Homo sapiens: one gene and its partner. The protein of the gene in region 1 purifies or fractionates together with the protein of each later gene. This does not show direct contact. Each region holds a gene or a part of one and is shown in the gene's direction. Other genes may lie near its edges. The genes, in order: RREB1 and ZMYM2.

Evidence for each region.
Region 2: the proteins of RREB1 (region 1) and ZMYM2 fractionate together in Homo sapiens (co-fractionation; one large-scale study listed by BioGRID). This does not show direct contact.

The regions. Positions count from the first base shown.
Region 1 is NC_000006.12:7,110,719-7,114,747, forward strand, and holds part of RREB1 (ras-responsive element-binding protein 1), read left to right. Parts: intron 1-4,029.
Region 2 is NC_000013.11:19,961,727-19,965,226, forward strand, and holds part of ZMYM2 (zinc finger MYM-type protein 2), read left to right. Parts: intron 1-3,493; coding exon of another isoform or gene 3,494-3,500. UniProt on the Homo sapiens protein: Involved in the negative regulation of transcription.

The DNA.
Region 1 (4,029 bases):
GGTTAATGAACTTGCATTGTCTTTGTCTTAAAAATACTGCTAAACTGGTTGCATTTTAGAATGTCTTGTTTTTAAAGAGGATTTGCTGGATGTGTAATACTCTTAAGAAATGCTGCCGATGCTTACCGTTTTGTGGAATATCATTCTCTGGGTTTTTCTAGATACTGCTTTATTTCTCATCAGAAAATCAGACTCTAAGCCCTTATGGCAGACAAGTATTTGTTATGTGATGGGGAACATGCGTCTTATTGAGCTGGTACAGGTAGTGCATCCATTCCTAACTAGTTACATCATCCAACAAGCGACCTTTTGATTGAAGGGTCTTTTAAATTTCTTCGGGCAGACTCCCAAGGCCTTATTTGTATCCAACACAGGTACAGCGTGTTGAAGGAAGAAAATAAACCTACACGTATTAGTCCAGCATCTGATCAACAGCAGTTTATTGGTTACCTGCTGTGTGCCAGGCACTGTACAGTGTAGCTGCCTTAGGTCGTTTTTGCTCTTCAATTTTGAACTGTTGCGTTATTCCACTTCTGAGGTCAGTTAGGAAGTCTTTGCTTGCTATCTTATGCTTGCTTGCTAACATCATTTATCACCTTCAGCTAAGGAAATGTCCTAGTTAATGAAGTTTTAAAATGCTACCCTTTTAGGATTTTGCTCAGCATAATTAATATAAATTTAACTCCTATAAGAATTGGTTAAATATATTCTTTGGAAACAGAAGTGAATTCTTTTGATGTTTCTGTTCATTATCCTTCTGAAAAGTAGGTGGTGCTTAGAAGGTCATAGGATAAGGGTTGCTAAGCAGCTAAACAGAAGGATGCTAAAATTAACCAAAGCATTTTTGAAAGGGAGTCATTCCCTGTTTTACATTATTTACTAGGTTTAGTTAATTTCTGAATCTTCTATGTCCTTTGACCTGGGAAGGTAGGATGTTAAAGTTTGTTTTGGTTTTGTTATTATATTTAAATAATCTCTTTCTTTTGTAAGTGTCTTTAATTGAAGTTCAGTACTCTATGACCAGCCTTGTGGTGTCAGATGGCAGCTTGTCTGGTGGACTTCTTGACTATTACCAGTGTGTTCAGGTTGAACCTTCCTGAGGATTTGTGTGTATAGTACCCTCTTATTTCTAGTATTAATAACTGATTCCATGGTTTGTTTTGGAAATTCTGCATAATCCATAAAGTTATGTCTTTTATTCCGCATGAAACAGATTTGTATTCAAAGATAGAAATGCAATTTAGTATCAGTAGAAAGTATGCAATGTAGTCTGTCCTGATAAGGGGACAATAGCTTTCTTTCCCCCTTTACTGAGATTACCATTCCCTTAGATTAGGTTTTGATAGGGCTTCTCCTCCATTTCATTCCACCTCCCTAGTGCAGTTTATTCCGCCCAGTTCATAGCTATCTTTTTAAAAATAATTATATTAGGTTCAGAGTATCTTTGGAAGGACTGGCCAAATGTCAGAAAACAAAAATAGGTGTGATGTACATTACATTTCTGCCAAAAGTATGTTCAAGTATCTTGAAGTTTTTCATTGAGATAAAATGGTTGAAATCTAATTGAAGCCATGATGAGTAACTATCATCTCTTGGTTGAATGGTAAGCCTGTTGTAAGCCAAAAGTTTCCCTGCTTCAAGGTTAATTTCTGTACATCTGACCTATTGAACAGGCAGTGTTGAGTCATATTTTTTATGTCCAAATATAATTAAGAAATTGATAAATGTATTTTCTTTCTGTTTCTTTTCTCTCTTTCTTTCCTGATTTAGACAGTGATTTTTGAGTAGAAGTAGCCATGGCAGTTTTCAAAGAGCAAGGGTCAGACAGTGATTTCCACAGGGGGGTGAGGGTTGCAGGGTTGCAGGTACCTTATATCAAAGGTAAAAGGTACACCGTATGAAACCCAGAGGGAGGCATACGGTGTGCTCTCTGAAATGCATCACTTATTTTTCATTTCCCCCACTCCCATAGAAGGCAGAATACAGAAAAGAAAACTACTGTTGTTTTCATTACTACGGAGGTAAAAGAATGAGGAAGGTGGAGAGGGGTTTTTCCTTTTTTGTTAGCAGTCCTGTCGGCAATGTCATCGACTGTGCTCCGCCCAATTTCTCTTGTCACGTTCTCTGGTGTTCAGCGTGGTCTGAACTGCAGCCGAGTGTAGCTGGGGATTGCACTCTGCCGTTGGCAGTGGCGGGTTGGGGTGAAGCGGATGGGGAGGAGGAGACTGGGAGCGATCGGTGCATCTTATTTCTGGTGGGACTTCAAGGGTACTGAAGTTAGCCAGTCTGCCCATCAGTAGAGGTGGCTGACTGTGAGTAGGTGCTTCAGACGAAAGCATGGGAGAGGGTGGAGATTGTTTGTTCAGTGTGATTCAAGCCAGTAAAGCTAAGAGAATTCGAAAACCTCTGTGAAGTCCGGGGACTGGGGACTGGGTCCTGACTGCTCCTGCAGGGATTCACCTGAGGGCTTGCAGACATCATGAGGGTGGGTGGAGAAAGAGAATGAAAACCCCCACAGGCATTGTCAGACAGCCAGAGTGAAGAGAAAACGTCTCAGTGGGGGTAATTAGATAAAGCTTTTAAATGCTCTATTTGTTTTTCTCTAGTTTGCTTGGTATTTCATCTCTTTCCCCCTTTTCAGAGACTATGGGATAGAATTGTTATGAAAGTGTCTGATACTTCTGGTGGTTTAATCACTTTAAAATTTTTCTTTTTCATTCAGATATACCTTCTAGGACTTAGTTAATTTCACCCTGCTTTTGTGGAGGCCTTTAGCAAAGATTCCACGTTCATGCTGAGAGGAACACTGTGGGAGTTGGGTGGGTATGTTGACCCATTTTACAGCTGCGCGGTGGTCCACCCGGGGGCTGTTAATGAATCAAACTTGGAACCCAGAACTCCTAACTCCAGCCTAGCCCTGTAGAACAGCTGCTTTTTAGAGTCAGTTTGACCTCAGGAGGACTTAGCAGCATTAAATATATACTGCCTATTTATCTCCATGTGTATGGTGTGTGGTTTTTAAATAAGACCAGATCCTTTTCAAAATAAACCTAATTGAGTTTGAAGGTATAAGGAAATTTTAAAAAGCACTTCTGCTCTTGGTAGCATTTCTGTTGATGAACTGTGATGACATGTATCTTTTTAGTAGCCTTTCTACCTCATGAGATTGTTGTAAGGATAAAGTAGATGTTCCAGAAAGTCAAAATCTATAAACGGAAGAAAGTGGTATATTTTGAGCTCAGGAAGCTTTGTGGGTATCCATTCTGGATTTCCTTTCCAGAATTTTGCACACCTCCATTACCTTAGTCAAATTTTGCCTAGGAGTTTATGTTCAGATTGGGGAAATGCAGCACTTTGTTTTTGTTTTTAGTGCTGGGAGACTAACAGGACTAGCAAATTCTTCTTAATGTGGTTCACTTAGGTGAGGCAGAGTCTTGCTGTCGCCCAGGATGGAGTGCAGTGGCACAATCTTGCCTGTCTGCAACCTCCACCTCCAGGGTTCAAGCGATTCTCCTGCCTCAGTCTCCTGAGCAGGTGGGACTACAGGCACACACCACCACGCCCAGCTAATTTTTGTATTTTTAGTAGTAACAGGGTTTCACCATGTTGATCAGGGTGAGGGATGAGTTTTAAGGAAAAAGCTGATGACAAGCTTGGGGCTTACTCTTTGAAGAAGTGGTTCTCAACCTGGTGGGTTTGCCCCCAGGGGACTTTTGGCACTGTCTGGAGACATTTTTAAGTGTTTCTGGTGGGGGGGGGGGCGGCAGCGGGGAGCTGCTACTGGCCTTTAGTGCATAGACCCCAAAGATGCTGTTCCACATCTTGGAGTGCACAGAACGACCCCCATACGTCAGCAGAGCTGAGGTTGAGAAAGCCTGCTTGAAAGGTACAGTAGTCGTGGCCTGGGTCTCATCTACAAGTCCACTGGGTGCGCTGCCTGTATTGCATGCGATATATTTAGAAATCTGAAATTCCATAAAGCAAGTAAGCTCTTATTTGCCTCTGAGGTACCATGGTTGGCAAGTTCGA
Region 2 (3,500 bases), on another chromosome or scaffold:
AATACCAGAATGGTTCTTGTTTTGCTTAACGATTTAGCTTAGAGTTGAACATTTCTTTACTTAAAAACAGCAACTAGTGATGCTGCTATGTGCTAGACAGTAAGATGAAGATAACCTGATGATTTTTAATTGGCCTTGACTAAATAAGTACTTTTATTATACAGTAGGAACATATGTAAATGCTTTTAGATCCATTTACAAAGTATTTTGACAGTTAAAAATACTTTGCATATTTATGGCATATTTCTTTAGTGCATCCTTTCTAATATCTGTTCCCTCCCACCTATCCTTTTAAATTGTTGGGAGGAAGATATAAAGTGGTCCCTACTTTTCCATGGGCTGGGCTTTTGTATCTCATGTGGTGAGACAATCCTGAATCACTCAAGTATGACATATATGCTGACATATGAACATTTTTAACTTCTGTGTGGATATAGAGCTTATATTATCTTTGAACAACAGTTTTTATTTTTTCAGTTTTATTGTATTTTGCCCTTGTTTGAGGTACAGAAGTGTACAAATTTAATATTAATGCATTTGAGACAAAGTGAATCTTTACCTTCAGTCAGATGCTCTGGTATTAATGTGATGGGAAGAATGGGTATGAAATGCTGAAACCCTGGTGTCAAAAGGCATGGTATAATTAGAATTGTTATATTTCCTGTCTCTCTAGCATTAATATGTCTCTATACCATTTGACAATATTATTAATATATATCATAATAAATGTCGTTGATTATGAGAAGACTGGGCTATTCAAATTGCATGGGATATATATATATATATATATTTTTTTTTTTTTTTTTTTTTTTTTTGAGATGGAGTTTCACTCTTGTTGCCCAGGCTGGAGTGCAGTGATGTGATCTTGGCTCACTGCAACCTCTGCCTCCTGGGTTCAAGTGATTCTCCTGCCTCAGCCTCCCAAGTAGTTGGGATTACAGGCATGCGCCACTGTGCCTGACCAATTTTGTATTTTTAGTAGAAACAGGATTTCACCATGTTGGTCAGGCTGATCTCGAACTCCTGGCCTCAAGTTATTCGCCTGCCTCAGCCTCCCAAAGTGCTGAGATTACAGGCGTAAGCCACCTTGCCCAGCCATTTTTTTTTTTTTTTTTTTGAGACAGAGTCTCTGTCATCCAGGCTGGAGTGCAGTGGCGTGATGTCTGCTCACTGCAGCCTCCGCCTCCAGGGTTCAAGCATTCTCCTGCCTCAGCTTCCCAAGTAGCTGGGACTACAGGCACGTGCCACTACACCTGGCTAGTTTTGTATTTTTAGTAGAGATGGGGATTTTTAGTAGAGACAAGGTTTCACCATGTTGGCCAGACTGGTCTCGAACTCCTGAGCTCCGGTGATCTGCCCGCCTCAACCTTCCAGAGTGCTGAGATTACAGGCGTGAGCCACCGTGCCGGCCTGCATGTGATTTTTTTAGCGAATGCAAGGAGAGCCCAAACTCAAGTGTTTTCTCTCATTGGATTCACAAATAGTATTTTATGTAGGGCATTTCAATTTAGGGAAGAAATAAATTGCTTTGACTCCCTGCGTTTTGCTCCTTTAAAAACACTTCAGTTGGTTAATTTTCTTATATTCCTGTCAAAGCATAGAAGTGAACAGGACTTTTGAAGTATTCAGATCAAAAAGTTCTAATGCAGGTCTCCAATATATAACACTTACAAAGTTGTCAATGAGAAAAATTGCTGTTGGATAAATCCATGAATTTGAGTGCAGCAATCTGAGTAACAGTTGCAGCTTATTTTCATATTTTATTTTGGTTGTATACCAGCAAGAATTTTTTTTTTTATGTAGTTGGAGTTGCACATTTTTATATTTACAACCTGGTTTTTTAAACAAATCACTTCGTAGTCTTTGATGTCTCTTACTAAAATAGACATATGAAAAGGGTCTTTATGGTCATCACCAAATGCTTGGCAACAAGATGAGTTGGTCATTTTAAAATGTGTTAAAATTTGGATTATAACACATTTGAACATATCTGTTGTTTTTGTGCATATTTAAGATATATTAATTTTTTTTGGATCAAGCTTTACACAATACTTGAAGCACTTCTGTGGAGCTGCAGAATGAATTTTCGTAAACATTTTTTAAACTCTTTTTAAGAGTTTAAAAAGATGTGCAGAGAGGTTAGCAAAATCACTTGATTAGTATGACTTTGGGATTTGTTCTTAGTCCTGTTTTATTTTTAACTTTATAACAGTCCATTGAAAATTAGAAGTAATAAATTTTAAGAAAAATCAATGCTCTTTAATTTGAAAGAAGGGTATAGCTGTTGGGTTTTAGTTTTACTGATTTGATTAATGTTCTGTAAATATTCATGTTTGCTATTTCAAGAAATGACATAAGAGTAAACTGGTTGGCCGGGCTCAGTGGCTCACGCCTGTAATCTTAGCTTTGGGAGACTGAGGCGGGTGGATCACCTGAGGTCAAGAGTTCGAGACCAGCCTGGCCAATGTGGTGAAACCCTGTCTCTACTAAAATACAAAGATTAGTCAGGCATGGTGGTAGGCACCCGTCATGCCAGCTACTCAGGAGGCTGAGGTAGGAGAATCACCTGAAACTGGGAGGTGGAGGTTGCAGTTAGCCAAGATTGCACCACTGCACTCCAGCCTGGGCAATAGAGTGAGAGACCGTCTCAAAAATAAAAAAAAAAATAAAGTGATTATTCACAGAAATAGATAATGCATGTTTAATAGGTCGGTTTTTTGTAGAGACAGGGACCCACTTTGTTGTCCACACTGCTCTCAAACTGCTGGACTCAAGCGATCTTCCCACCTTGGCCTCCCAAAGTGTTGGGATTTCAGGCGTGAGCCACCATGCCCAGCCAGTAGGTTGGGTTTTTAAAAACTTTTGCACGTTTATGTTTTATTAGTATAAGTTATCATCTTGTTTTTGTTTATTCTTAATTTAGACCGTTCTCTTTAATGTCAGTAGGCTGCCAAGGATTAGGTTTTTCTCTCTTTTTCAGAGGGTTCCAGATTTTTTTTTTTCTCTCTAAGTGTTCCTAGTGAATTTCAAGGTCAGATTAGTTTTTGTGAATTTATAAGTTAGTCTAAAGAGTTTTTAAAAATTTATCCATAAAAATGTTTTTTTATATTACAAGTTAATGTTAAATTGTAATCAGGATAAATTTGCTAGGAATATAACTAATTGTTGCAACTTCATATGCAAATGTTGGGAAAGATCTGTTAAAACTCTTGCATTAAACTTATTTGTCTCTAACCATGCATTTAGGTTGGATAAGAAAAATACTTAAGTTAGTGGGTGCAGCGCACCAGCATGGCACATGTATACATATGTAACTAACCTGCACAATGTGCACATGTACCCTAAAACTTAAAGTATAATAAAAAAAAAAAAAGAAAAATACTTACATAGCTATTCTAAGTAACATTGGGATGCACAGTTAGAAGTTGCAGACAGAATAATGTTTGTAAAATGTGACTATAATACAGTGAGACAAATTCTTTTTACTTTATAGCCATACA